Homo sapiens: one gene and its partners. The protein of the gene in region 2 interacts with the protein of the main gene of each other region in a biochemical or structural test. Each region holds a gene or a part of one and is shown on either strand. Other genes may lie near its edges.

The links. Proteins that work in one complex are often made in the same cells at the same time.
Region 1: the proteins of PAX6 (region 2) and IPO13 form a complex in vitro, tested with the Homo sapiens proteins (one study listed by BioGRID).
Region 3: the proteins of PAX6 (region 2) and TBP form a complex in vitro, tested with the Homo sapiens proteins (one study listed by BioGRID).
Region 4: the proteins of PAX6 (region 2) and VSX2 form a complex in vitro, tested with the Homo sapiens proteins (one study listed by BioGRID).

What each region holds. Positions count from the first base shown.
Region 1 is NC_000001.11:43,963,950-43,966,235, reverse strand, and holds part of IPO13 (importin-13), read right to left. Parts: intron 1,968-2,286; coding exon 1,915-1,967; intron 1-1,914. UniProt on the Homo sapiens protein: Functions in nuclear protein import as nuclear transport receptor. Serves as receptor for nuclear localization signals (NLS) in cargo substrates.
Region 2 is NC_000011.10:31,787,482-31,792,108, reverse strand, and holds the end of PAX6 (paired box protein Pax-6), read left to right. Parts: intron 1-1,248; coding exon 1,249-1,399; intron 1,400-1,784; exon of another isoform or gene 1,785-2,089; coding exon 2,090-2,175; coding exon of another isoform or gene 2,176-2,479; 3' UTR 2,480-3,083; downstream 3,084-4,627. UniProt on the Homo sapiens protein: Transcription factor with important functions in the development of the eye, nose, central nervous system and pancreas. Required for the differentiation of pancreatic islet alpha cells.
Region 3 is NC_000006.12:170,567,869-170,571,368, forward strand, and holds part of TBP (TATA-box-binding protein), read left to right. Parts: intron 1-1,743; coding exon 1,744-1,911; intron 1,912-3,500. UniProt on the Homo sapiens protein: The TFIID basal transcription factor complex plays a major role in the initiation of RNA polymerase II (Pol II)-dependent transcription.
Region 4 is NC_000014.9:74,238,217-74,242,248, reverse strand, and holds the start of VSX2 (visual system homeobox 2), read right to left. Parts: upstream 2,801-4,032; 5' UTR 2,688-2,800; coding exon 2,318-2,687; intron 1,068-2,317; coding exon 983-1,067; intron 1-982.

The sequences.
Region 1 (2,286 bases), on a different chromosome or scaffold from region 2:
TGACTTCATGTTGATTCACAGAGGGAGTTAAGCACCCCCAGTTTGTGAACAGGGTAGCAGGAAGAAGAGATGGCAGCCAGACAGGGAGCCCTCAGCCCAACAGCCCTCCTCCCATGTCCCTCCTGTATTCCTGAGGCACCCTCCAGCTCCTGCTCAAAAAGAAGAAAAGTACAGCAGGAGCCTTGGAGCCTCAGCCCCATCTTTCACCCAGGGTACCCTGTGTCCAGGCCCTCTTCGGCCATACACACACCAAGGAGCCAGTGCTGCTGTGGGTGAGGGGGAAGAGATGAAGTGAAGGGGGCAGATGGCCTGCCCCGAGTGGTACCAGGACATGACTGGCACATCCTCAGGTCACAGGAGATGCTCTGCACAGCTCCAGTCATCCTCAAACACTGCTGCTCCCCAGCAATGCCCCCAGTGCATACCACATAGACCTCTACCCTCCAGCCCCTCACATCCCCTCTACCCCCCATGTTTACTCATGTGCAAACACCCCCACATGCACCATCACTTGAAATGCCCTCCTTACACACTTCTCTAACACCGCTAACATACACACACTCTCCCCATCTGGAACACACCCTCATTACACAGTCATACACCAAACACCTGCACATCCCCAAACCATGTCCACACACCTACACCCTCAGCCTTCCCACAGTCCCCCTGTGCACTCTTCCAACATACCCATCCACAAATACACATTCAGACACCCTCCGCATCAAAGATACACCTTTGAAAACACCCACACACATATCCATCCAGGCCCAGAACACTCCCTATTCTTCCCTCCTCCCACCCTACCCATCCCCCAGAAACTAGACTTGTAAGTTCCAGGAGAGCAAGAACTGTGCCTGGTTTTGCTCGCTATCATATCCTCAGTACCTAGCAAAGTACAGCATGTATCACACACTCAATAAATATCTGTGGAATGATTAAGCAAAGAAACACTCCATTTACCCCAATTCACAGGTTAGGGGGTCTGCGTGCTAGGATCCCCTAACACACAGAAGCCCCCATCACACTAACTTCATACCCCCACAGCCCAACATGCATCTCCAAACCATACTCTGATACAGACATACCAATGCCACAACATACACTCCTATCCTCCATAATATACACTCCGACAACCCAACACACACACCTCCAACACACGTCCACGCTCTAAATCCATCAAGGCCTAACACATCAACAAACAACACAAAACACACAACACATCAACATACAGCACACATCAAGGCACACATTCATCTCAGCACCCAACACAATTCACATACTACTTACAGGTGATTTCTGTTCCCTTCCCAAACCAAACTCAAAACATACAAAATAAGGTCTCACACACTGAAACACATACAAAATGCAAACACATCCTAGCATGGAGCCTGCACTCCACCTCCTAGCAGCAGCTCAACCTCTCCAACAGCCCAACTCTGGGCTCCACCGCGCACATTCCTCTTCAGCCCCTCGCTTTGGAGCTGCTCCCAGCCTACCTCTCAGGAGCAGGCTGGGGGCACTGAGGCAGGCAGTTCCCGGCAGGAGCACGGGGACAGTGTACCCCAGACCCTTCAACTCCAGCCCTACACGTGAACTTCTTGGGCAACAAGAAGCTGCTGGGCGCAGTCACCACCCCCTCCCTTTCCCATTCCCCACCCGATGCCAGCCCAGCTCCCTCCGTTTGGGATCAGCCTCTCCCTGGTCTTTGTAGAAGACTGAGCTAGTGAGGCATAGGGGCACTAAAGGAGGATGTTGGGTTGTCAACTTCCACGGAAACAGATGAAGAAACTCTATTCAACTGAACAGAAAAAAAATTTGTCAACAGAAAGCTAAAAATAGGCTTAAATTGAATTTCAACATAAGAGAAAGAGAAAGAGAGAGAACAGAACGTGAATGAATAAAACTAAAACACACCTGTGCCAGGAGTTGCATAAATGAATCAACAATATCAGGATGATCCCTGGGCCCTAAAATATAATAAAGATGGAACTTAAGAAAAAATTATACAAACAGCAACTCAACCTCATATAGTTATGTGGGACTGAGAGCCTGCAGGGAGACAGCGTGGGGGCACATGAGCAGCAGGAAGCAAGATAAAGAAACAAAACATACAAAAACCATGAACTGGGAGAAGCCCAACAGAAAGAGACGGCAAAGTGAAGGACGGGCCTGCCCCAGCTCCCTCCAAGGGGCCTTCCGCCTACTCCCCACTCCTCCTCAGGCCATCCCCTCATGTTCCCTTGGTACTTGAGCAATTCTGGACTCCATATAGCTGAAGAAACGGCC
Region 2 (4,627 bases):
CTCGTTCAGTTTCATGTATTATAACAACATCCAGGTTTCTGTGAAGATAGCAAAATGTGTATGTGAGAAAATAATAAGACGAACAAGTAGATGCTGCAATTATATTAGGGCTGTTTCCACATACAGAGCGGTATGGGGAATCAATCTATTTCAAACACTGACTTTTAAAAATTACATAATTTGTATAATTCAAAAAGTACATGCATTCATTAAGCATAAAGAAAATCAAAATGATCAATAACTTTACTCTTCAGAGAAAACTACTCTTTGAATTTTGGAGTGGGTGAGCCCGATTGTCTATCCATTTATTCATTCTCTTGACCAAAATCATCATTTTACAAATGGTGGGTGTCTTCCTCTGGACCTTCTCTGATATGCTTCCCTCTCTGAGCATATGGATTTTGGAAATTAAACATTTCTCCAGTTTGCAGAGAAGAGAAATGATAGTATACTGTACTATCATCTGACCTGCTTGTTCCCGACACACTTCTTTTAATTCATCCCAAGTTTGCTGCCATGGCATAGTACCATGAGAGCTCATGAGGCGTTTTGTTAGGAGAAAGGTTTACCTCCTCAGTGCTGCCATTCCGAACAGTTCGAGGGTAGCAACAGTTTTCTAGTTATAAGTCAGTCTGGGCTTTTGGGTCTGTTAGGAAGTCATGGTTAATTCTCAGGATGGAGGTCGTTATATTTACTAACACTTCTGATCACTTTAACTTGGGGTCATTACAGATCTGCTTCTTCAAAGAATCTTTAATCCCATCAGTGAAAGGTTCCCAAGGTCCCTGAACCATACTTTACTGAGAGCTCCTCCCACTGCTCTCTGTCCCAAAGCTTGAGATATGGGCTCTGGGGGTCATAGGGTTCCCAAATAAATCCAGATTTGCAGGGAGAGGGGATGTGTTTTGATGAAGGTCCTCATGCTATAGGTTCTTCAAAGATGCTAGCAGAGGTTAGAGACAAAAATCCTATTAATTTATGGATAGTGGCAACCATCTAGCTGGACAGTTGTCAGAACCTAAAGTGCTTTAGAGGCTTGATACATAGGCAGCTTTCTTCTAGCTGTGGCCAGTGGAAGGACTAGCTCGAGGCCCAATCTTAGATTTATCATATGGAATTCCAGTACTTCACGTGAAGGCATCTTTAATGATCAGACTTGTTGGCAGAGTTCCTCGGGAGGAGGGAGCCTGGGGCTGTGGCTGTGTGATGTGTTCCTCAGTAACCACAGGTTTGCCTCTCTCCTCACAGCCCCCAGTCCCCAGCCAGACCTCCTCATACTCCTGCATGCTGCCCACCAGCCCTTCGGTGAATGGGCGGAGTTATGATACCTACACCCCCCCACATATGCAGACACACATGAACAGTCAGCCAATGGGCACCTCGGGCACCACTTCAACAGGTGAGCCACTGCTTTCTGCAGGCTGCACAGAGGCGATCTCTCTTCACTAGAAGTTTACCCAAACAGAATCTCCTGGTCTTATGGGAGGGCGTGTTTAACTCCTTGCTTTCCTTGTCCCTGGGGGATGGGGATTGAAAAGGGAAATTCAGTTAAGCTAATTAGTAACTTTACACCATATAGACAAAAACTAAAATTGTTTTTCCTGAATTTGGTCACAAAAGTTGTGTATGAAGACAAGGCCTGAGACTGCAAGTTTTCTGAGGACAGATTATTAGACGAAGCTCAGTAGGGGGCCCACTGAGCTGTAGGTGCGTGCTTGTTGAAATGCTTCTTGCCCTCATAGCTCCTCTAGACCTTTTGCTGGAAATAAAAAGTGACACATTGGTTTTCCAGAGACAGCTTTATTGTAAAAGTTCCAAACATGCAAACAAACAGAGGATTTTTTTTTTCTTTTCCTTTGGATTGGGGTGGGGGGTACTTGGGATCCAATAGGTATATATACATATATTGTCTAGTTTCTGAAGGTGCTACTTTTATTTGTAACAATTGAAGTGATTTTAATACAGTAAAAAATGTTAGAAAGTATTAGTTTTTTTTTTTTTTTTTTTTTTTGTAAACCTATAAATTTGTATTCCATGTCTGTTTCTCAAAGGGAATATCTACATGGCTATTTCTTTCATCCACTTCTAGGACTCATTTCCCCTGGTGTGTCAGTTCCAGTTCAAGTTCCCGGAAGTGAACCTGATATGTCTCAATACTGGCCAAGATTACAGTAAAAAAAAAAAAAAAAAAAAAAAGGAAAGGAAATATTGTGTTAATTCAGTCAGTGACTATGGGGACACAACAGTTGAGCTTTCAGGAAAGAAAGAAAAATGGCTGTTAGAGCCGCTTCAGTTCTACAATTGTGTCCTGTATTGTACCACTGGGGAAGGAATGGACTTGAAACAAGGACCTTTGTATACAGAAGGCACGATATCAGTTGGAACAAATCTTCATTTTGGTATCCAAACTTTTATTCATTTTGGTGTATTATTTGTAAATGGGCATTTGTATGTTATAATGAAAAAAAGAACAATGTAGACTGGATGGATGTTTGATCTGTGTTGGTCATGAAGTTGTTTTTTTTTTTTTTAAAAAGAAAACCATGATCAACAAGCTTTGCCACGAATTTAAGAGTTTTATCAAGATATATCGAATACTTCTACCCATCTGTTCATAGTTTATGGACTGATGTTCCAAGTTTGTATCATTCCTTTGCATATAATTAAACCTGGAACAACATGCACTAGATTTATGTCAGAAATATCTGTTGGTTTTCCAAAGGTTGTTAACAGATGAAGTTTATGTGCAAAAAAGGGTAAGATATAAATTCAAGGAAGAAAAAAAGTTGATAGCTAAAAGGTAGAGTGTGTCTTCGATATAATCCAATTTGTTTTATGTCAAAATGTAAGTATTTGTCTTCCCTAGAAATCCTCAGAATGATTTCTATAATAAAGTTAATTTCATTTATATTTGACAAGAATATAGATGTTTTATACACATTTTCATGCAATCATACGTTTCTTTTTTGGCCAGCAAAAGTTAATTGTTCTTAGATATAGTTGTATTACTGTTCACGGTCCAATCATTTTGTGCATCTAGAGTTCATTCCTAATCAATTAAAAGTGCTTGCAAGAGTTTTAAACTTAAGTGTTTTGAAGTTGTTCACAACTACATATCAAAATTAACCATTGTTGATTGTAAAAAACCATGCCAAAGCCTTTGTATTTCCTTTATTATACAGTTTTCTTTTTAACCTTATAGTGTGGTGTTACAAATTTTATTTCCATGTTAGATCAACATTCTAAACCAATGGTTACTTTCACACACACTCTGTTTTACATCCTGATGATCCTTAAAAAATAATCCTTATAGATACCATAAATCAAAAACGTGTTAGAAAAAAATTCCACTTACAGCAGGGTGTAGATCTGTGCCCATTTATACCCACAACATATATACAAAATGGTAACATTTCCCAGTTAGCCATTTAATTCTAAAGCTCAAAGTCTAGAAATAATTTAAAAATGCAACAAGCGATTAGCTAGGAATTGTTTTTTGAATTAGGACTGGCATTTTCAATCTGGGCAGATTTCCATTGTCAGCCTATTTCAACAATGATTTCACTGAAGTATATTCAAAAGTAGATTTCTTAAAGGAGACTTTCTGAAAGCTGTTGCCTTTTTCAAATAGGCCCTCTCCCTTTTCTGTCTCCCTCCCCTTTGCACAAGAGGCATCATTTCCCATTGAACCACTACAGCTGTTCCCATTTGAATCTTGCTTTCTGTGCGGTTGTGGATGGTTGGAGGGTGGAGGGGGGATGTTGCATGTCAAGGAATAATGAGCACAGACACATCAACAGACAACAACAAAGCAGACTGTGACTGGCCGGTGGGAATTAAAGGCCTTCAGTCATTGGCAGCTTAAGCCAAACATTCCCAAATCTATGAAGCAGGGCCCATTGTTGGTCAGTTGTTATTTGCAATGAAGCACAGTTCTGATCATGTTTAAAGTGGAGGCACGCAGGGCAGGAGTGCTTGAGCCCAAGCAAAGGATGGAAAAAAATAAGCCTTTGTTGGGTAAAAAAGGACTGTCTGAGACTTTCATTTGTTCTGTGCAACATATAAGTCAATACAGATAAGTCTTCCTCTGCAAACTTCACTAAAAAGCCTGGGGGTTCTGGCAGTCTAGATTAAAATGCTTGCACATGCAGAAACCTCTGGGGACAAAGACACACTTCCACTGAATTATACTCTGCTTTAAAAAAATCCCCAAAAGCAAATGATCAGAAATGTAGAAATTAATGGAAGGATTTAAACATGACCTTCTCGTTCAATATCTACTGTTTTTTAGTTAAGGAATTACTTGTGAACAGATAATTGAGATTCATTGCTCCGGCATGAAATATACTAATAATTTTATTCCACCAGAGTTGCTGCACATTTGGAGACACCTTCCTAAGTTGCAGTTTTTGTATGTGTGCATGTAGTTTTGTTCAGTGTCAGCCTGCACTGCACAGCAGCACATTTCTGCAGGGGAGTGAGCACACATACGCACTGTTGGTACAATTGCCGGTGCAGACATTTCTACCTCCTGACATTTTGCAGCCTACATTCCCTGAGGGCTGTGTGCTGAGGGAACTGTCAGAGAAGGGCTATGTGGGAGTGCATGCCACAGCTGCTGGCTGGC
Region 3 (3,500 bases), on a different chromosome or scaffold from region 2:
ACTTGGTAGAAGTCAAAAACTAGGGGGAAAATTAGTGACATTAGCTTCATAAATGAACTGAACAAATAAACTAAAACTTTTTAAATGAAAGAGTATTAAATGTACTTGGAGGTATCAACACATAGAAGGGGGCTGTGGATATTTTTGCTTATTCTGAAGTTTGAAATTGTCTTTCAGTGATGGGAATGCCATTGGTGTGGACATTCTGGCTCCTGATCTCCGAGGTTTTTCAGAATGCAGGACAAGGATGTGTTCTTGCCTTTCACTTCCCCTTGGCCACAACATGCAGTAGTAACCTCTTTAATTAAGAGCGTTTTTGTTTGCTTGTTTTCCCCTGCATGGAACATCAGAAACTTTTGGTTTATCAAGGCAAGCTTTTCATGCAGCATTTAGCCTTTTTGTCCCAGAGCATCTGAAAACTGAATATTGTATATGTAGTTGGATGACTATTTCATCAAGACAAGAAACCACCAATACATTTACCTGAAATTTAAAAGCGTAGCATATATATATATGCTTGATTTTTGTTCTTCCTGATCCCCTGCACCTGATAGTCTCTTTATGGTAATATTTTCACATTCTTTTTTGTTGTTGTTGTTGTTTTTGAGATGGAGTCTCGCTCTGCGCCCAGGCTGGAGTGCAGTGGCATGATCTCGGCTCACTGCAAGCTCCGCCTCCTGGGTTCACGCCATTCTCTTGCCTCAGCCTCCCGAGTAGCAGAGACTACAGGTGCCCACCACCATGCCTGGCTAATTTTTGTATTTTTAGTAGAGATGGGGTTTCACTGTGTTAGCCAGGATGGTCTCAATCTCCTGACCTCATGATCCGCCTGCCTCAGCCTCCCAAAGTGTTGGGATTACAGGTGTGAGCCACCGTGCCCGACCTGCCTGCCTGCCTTTTTCTCTTTTATTTTTTCTTTTTTTCTCTTCTTTCTTTCTTTCCTTTTCTTTTTTTTTTTTTTTTTTTTTTTTTTTGGTGGAGTCACCTAGGCTGGAGTGCAGTGGCACAATCTTGGCTCACTGCAACCTCCACCTCCCAGGTTCAAGTGATTCTCCTGCCTCAGCCTCCCAAGTAGCTGGGATTGCAGGTGCCTGGCACCATGCCCAGCTAATTTTTGTATTTTTAGTAGAGATAGGGTTTCACCATGTTGACCAAGCTGGTCTCGAACTCTTGACCTCAGGTGAGCTATCCGCCTTGGCCTCCCAAAGTGCTTGGGATTAGAGGCGTGAGCCACCATGCCTGGCCCACATTCTGCTTTTCTTATGTAAGCTCTGAACTGCTAAGTCGTAGTTTATTCAACAAATGACATAGGAATGTCTATTCATGATGAGTCTTGGTATAAAAGAGGATAGAATTAGTGAATACATTGTTCAATAATAAATCTCATCAACATTTTCTGATCAAAATGAAGTTTGTTAGTTTTCCTCTCAGTAGAAATGCATGGGCTAAAATACAGAAATAGTGATGACTGATGATGGTGATAATTCACATCCATAAAATCTAGGGCTACAATAATTTGGCGGATTGAAAGGTCATTTTGGCAGGCCTACAGTTTTCTGTCAAGGATCCAGGAATACTTTATAAGGAATTGTGAATGCCTGTCAGTCTTTTCTCCTATTGCAAGAAGGCTGACCAGTTTACACTTTATTAGTTTACTGTTTTGGACTTTTTATAAGTTATTAGTCTAAATAAGTATTTTAGCTGGCTCTGAGTATGAATAACTCACTTTTTTCCTTTCCCTAGTGAAGAACAGTCCAGACTGGCAGCAAGAAAATATGCTAGAGTTGTACAGAAGTTGGGTTTTCCAGCTAAGTTCTTGGACTTCAAGATTCAGAATATGGTGGGGAGCTGTGATGTGAAGTTTCCTATAAGGTTAGAAGGCCTTGTGCTCACCCACCAACAATTTAGTAGGTAAGTCTGAAATGTATTATGATTGTTATTGGCAACAGTTCATTTATAATCTAAACATTGTTCAGAATAAAACACATGCAAAATATTCAGTATATGAGAACAGTTGACATGGTTATAGTTGTATGTATTCTTGCATTGTCTTCCTGATGTTCTCAGTCATATTTATCACCCTCACCAGCCTCTGCTTCCCTTATCACTTTGCGGTACCCATAACTCCCCTTTACTGGAATGAATTTGATTCTACTTCTGTATGTTTTATCGTTTTATTGCTGAATACACTTGGAATGCATGAATTGACCCTAACCTTGTATCAATTTTTTTTCCCAGTTTGGATCTTCTCTTTTAGTCAACATTGTGTCAGATCTACCAGCAAAGTGTGAAGTTGAGCGATAGGAACAACTTTCTAATTATCTTCCCTGCTACTTGCAGGTGAAGACTCACAGGCAGGCAGCCCTGCCCACCTCACTGCTTCATCTCATGGTCTTCTGGTGTCTGTTCACAGGCACATTAGTTCTGTGTGCCCCTGGGGCTCACTTGGTTCCTCCTGCCCTAGGCCTTTGCACTTGCCACTTTTATGCCTAGTATGCTCATTTCCCTTTTCACCTAGGAAGCTCCCACTTGAGTTCCATATGTCTACCCATTCCACTCTTCCTCAGAGAAGCCTGTCCTGAATTTTGTCTTAGGTCAGACACACAGAAACAGAGGCATCCTGTTTTCAGTCTCTCCGAACTGAGAAAAATGAGATTACTAGGCTTAGAAGAATATGTACCAGGCCTGGCCTGGTGGCTCACACCTGTAATCCCAGCATTTTGGGAGGCCGAGGCAGGCAGATCAGTTGAGTTCAGGAGTTCAAGACCAGCCTGGCCAACATGGTGAAACCTCGTCTTTACTAAAAATACAAAAATTAGCTGGACATGGTGGTGCATGCCTGTAATCCCAGTTACATGGGAGGCTGAGGCAGGACAATCATTCGAACCCAGGAGATGGAGGTTGCAGTGAGCCAAGATCGTGCCACTGTACTCCAGCCTGGGCGACACAGCAAGACTCCGTCTCAAAAAAAAAAAGAATATATACCAATAGTCCATTCAGTCAGACAGCTTAATCAGGTATAGGTTAATTCTCAGGCTAGTATATAAGTTTGATTAAATTTCCTGACCACAATTGTCAGCTAGAGAATATTTCAATTTAAGGAGGTAAGATATGATTAAAAGTTAAACTGTCAGTATTGGATCTTAGAAGTAAATGATTATTAGGACTGTAATAGTAATTATTAGGACTGTAAAAGTAAAGGATTATTATCTGCATTAGATATCATTATATCTAATGATATAGAGACTGCAGACATAACTACAGGGCTCTTTTTCTTAAATCAGAAAATCCAGATTCAATAGAAATAGGGTAAAGTGATAGGAGGACAAATAGCCTTCCATCCAGTGGTTATCAACTGACGACTACAAGTCGGCCTCACTTGCTTTAATTATTCTATTCTATCCTTTGATGCTGCTTGAAGAACTGTGTTTTACCTCTTGACTAGTTTGTTTATTCAGTATTTTTCCTTGTACAGGTCCTCATTTTATCTAAAAGCACAC
Region 4 (4,032 bases), on a different chromosome or scaffold from region 2:
TGATGGGGACGGAGTGGGGTGCGGGGAAATAGCTCCGAGGTGAGCGCCGGGGCAGCACCTGCGAGCAGCACCCGCAGAAAGGCAGGCAGATTTTTGGTTCTTTCTCCTTTATTTCCTTGAAAACCACCTTACAAATGTACCCAAGGAACTGGTAGCAGTGCGGCTGGTGCGGAAGGGAATGAGGGCGGGGGTGGGAGAAGGGTAGGTTACTTTTCAAGATATACCTGTCGGCATCTACTGAGTTTTAACTTTGTGCAAGTAATTTCCATTTAAAGACAAAAACAAAACAAAACAAAACAAAACAAAACCCTTTCTAGTCTGTACCCCGATGCAGTCCACCCTACTCCAGCTACGGCTGGTGGGACCGTCCAGTCTACATCGCCTACCACTCCATTTTGCAGACGAGGAAACTGAGGCTCACAGAAGGGAAGCGACTCGGTCAGAATCACGAATGAGCAGAAGCCAAAAGAAAATGCTCTGTCAGTGCAGAGATCGCTCCAGCTTTGGAGAACGGTGGGAGCAGAAAGCTTAGGGAGTTGGCAGAGAGGACAGGGACCCCGGGAGAGAAATGGGGGCGGCGGTTGAGGCCGAGGGCAAAGAACCGGCTCTGGCAGGAGGTGGGAGCTAATCTGCCCGCCGCCGGGTCTGTGTGGCTCTCAGAATGTACTGGTGCGGGGATCTGGGGACCGCCCCCACTCTGTGGCTCAGTTTGGCCTGTGTTGGAGCCTTTCCTTTCTCCTGAACAAGGAGGAGAAAGCCCGAACCGGGCCGCTTTCCCGGCGGCCACTCATCCTGCTCAACCGGTGCCGACGCCAAGGCCCCCGGGCAGATTCCGCCAAACAACCCGTGGTCTGCGCCCTGGCACGGCCTCGGACCTCAGATCCGTTGTCGGCGAAAATAGGGTCCGAGAGACCCGATCCCGGAACGGGGGACGGCAGCGGGGTGCGCGGGCAGGAGAGGTAACAGAAAGCGGGGGCCTCACCTGTGTCGCCGCTTCTTCCGTTTCTTGGTCTGGTTTAAAGCAGATTTGGACATTTTTCGATCGCTGGAGGAAACATCTTCAGAATCTGAAAAGCGGGCGTAGGGACATGCGGCAGAGTGGGGGACGCGCTCCGCTGTGCCCGAAACCCGCGAGGGCCCCACCCCGGGCTGCCTCCGCGAGCGGCGGGGACCTGCTCTGTCTCCCCAGGAAGCCTGCGGGCGCCCCGGTGGCCGTCCCATCCCTGAGCTCAGGCTGACCTCTCCCGCGCCGGGGCCCGAATCCGGAGGTTTTGAACAGATTTCGTTGTAAGAGAGGCAAAGGCCCCGGCGCGCTTGGGACCGGGACGACGGAGAGCGAGGCAGCCTTAGGGGGCCGCAGAGATCCCCGGCAGCGCTCGCGACCCTGCTGCGCCCTGCCCTGCGCGGCCAGCCCCAATGCCCCGGGCCGGAAAGTTGGCCTCGAGGAGCGAGGAGCGGAGCGGAGGCGTGGGGAGCTGGGCTCCGGGAAGACTGGGGGCTGCCGAGCACCGTCCTTTTCGCAAGGCGGCACAATGCGTCCCTACTCGAGGCCCGAGAGCCTGCGACGCGCTGGTTTTCGTTGCCTTTCCACGTAAAACAAAGTAAAACGCAACGAAAAATCGGGGGAATTGCCAAGCTCAAACAGGAATCGGAGGTTCGAGCGGGCCGCGACACACCTCCCGGAAAGCAGCGCGGGGAGAAGGCGGAGAGGTCACCCAGGGTCCCCGAGCCCGCGCGTCCCCGGGCTCCAGTATATAGTGGCGCTTACGTGGGAGAGGATGGCGGCCGCTTTAGCTGCCGCGATGGCCGGGTTGTCTGAGCTCGTGGGGGTGAAAAATAAACCCCAGTTGACCAGCGCGGGATTTGGGAATCAGACAACTTTGGACACCAGGGATGGGGCCGGAGCCGGAACAGCATCGGGCTCGAGGAGTGCGGATCCTACACCAGGCCGGGGCCGCAGTGGAGCAGCGGTGCTGGGGCCCTCCGACACGGCCGGCGACTCTGCACCACGGGCTCCGACACCCCAAACCCAGTTTTCAGTGGGGCTCCAACAGAGTGCCGTGGCCGAGCCCTGCCCGACGCGGGGACTGGAGAACTGCGCGGCCGCCCGAAACGCTTGGGGCCGAAACCCTGCGGACGCCGAAGCATCCTCCCGGGCCCCATCACCAGGCGCGTCGGCCCAAGGCCCAGGCGGCGACCCCCGGCCTGGCAGGAACTTTTCCGCCTGGAGGCCTGGTCCAGCAAGCGAGAGCCGACGGCGCGGGGCTCCCGGCTGTCGCCCCCCAGTCAGGCAGCAGCGCAACCTCTCCTCACCTACCCGAGCTGGCCGTCTGGCTGGTGTCCAGCGGCCCCGATGCTCTGCCCAATGGCTGCAAGTGGACGCTCTGCGGGTCGGACAGCACTTCCAGGAAGGTGGGCTGCGTGTAGAAGCCAGGGAGCCCCCCGGGCCCCAGAAGCCCCATGCCGCCCACCCCCGCGGGGCTGAGCACTGAGCGCGCCGCCAGCAAGTGCCCGGGGGCCAGGCCGTCGAGCGCTGCCCGCGGGTGGGAGCTCGGGGGCTCCTTGTTCAAGCCCAGGATCTCCTGGATGCCGAACCCAGTGCACCTGGCCGGGGCGCCCCCCGAGGTACTCTTGGCCACTGTCTCGGATTTGGGCTTGCTCAGCGCTTCCCCTGCTTTCCCCGTCATCTCCCTGTTCTTTGGAGGGGCTGAGGCCGCAGGTCTTTAGCTCCCCCCACCCCCCCGCCGGGCTTCCCGCTTCGCGAAGTTGGTCCCAGGTGCCCCCTCCGGTGTCTAATGCTCTGGAGCCCAAGGAGATTCCCCTTTTATCCAACCAGGCGGCAGCCCAAGTGGGGTCAGAGCTGAGCAGCCAATCACCGGGGCCAGGAGCGATTAGGAATTCCAAAAAGCTGGCAGCTCCCGCCGCAGGCAATGTCGAATGGCCAGGGTGCTGGGGGTGGAGCACCGGGTGGGCTCTGCAGGATGCCCATGGGCAGGGACCCCAGGGGCCGAAGTGAGACAACCAGGTTCAGGTTCAGGGCTGTTCCGGGAGGCAGAGTGGCTTGGGGCTCTGGGCAGATTCTGGCAGGGACAGGTCCCTGAGGTCAGGTGGAAGGATGGGCTAAGGGCAGAGGTGAGAGACTGGGAGACCTCCTTCCCTCAACTCCTATGCAGGTTGGCAGCATCAGGGCGGCCTGAATATGGCACCTCTGTGTAAACGGTTGAACAAGGGAGAGGTAAGTGCTGGGGCAGTGTGTGTGGTGGTAAGCTGGGAAAAGATCAGGCCAAGGTGTGCAGAGGGTGATGTAGGGGTAGGGAAAGTTTGCTTCCCCAGCACAAGGTATAATGCCTAGTTCGGAAGAGCTACTCAACACATATTGGCCCAATGAATGAATGATAAATGGGTCAGAAAGAGGGGTCCCTGGTGGGAAAGAGGAACAGTGATGATTACTTTTGGAGAACAACCATGGACATCCAAACCTCTTCCTAGAGTAAGCATGAAGCATGCCCAACTTTCATGGGAGGACTTGATTCTTCCACCCAATTCATTCGACTAATATGTATTGAGCTACTAGCTCCGACCTGGTAGCCAGGGGTTCCGCAGTAAATCAGACAAGGCAAGGGCCCTGCTATACTTCAGAGTTCATTGAGCAAACAGAATGAAGAGGAAGGGATTGTTGATGTGGAGGGAGAGGAAGGAGGAAGCGGGTGAGAGGAAATTAAAAGGTAAGCTGCTTTCCCCTGCACTCCACCACCTCAGCTAACTCTTCTGTGACCTTCTTGGGGCTGGGAACTATCTTATCGACCTTGAGGCTCCCTTCTTCACTGCGCCTAGCATATGGTCAGTTCATGGTAGGTTCCTTGAATTGAAGGCACCCTATGGGGAGATAAGGACTAGGTCCATTGCTTTAAGCAGAGATTGGAAAACCAGGCTGGGAAGATTCCATCCAGGATTTCTTAGCCAGTCAGGTGCAAACCCCCAAATGGAAGGAAACCCCCTAGCCATACCTGGCCTATTGCCAAGGTGTCTGGT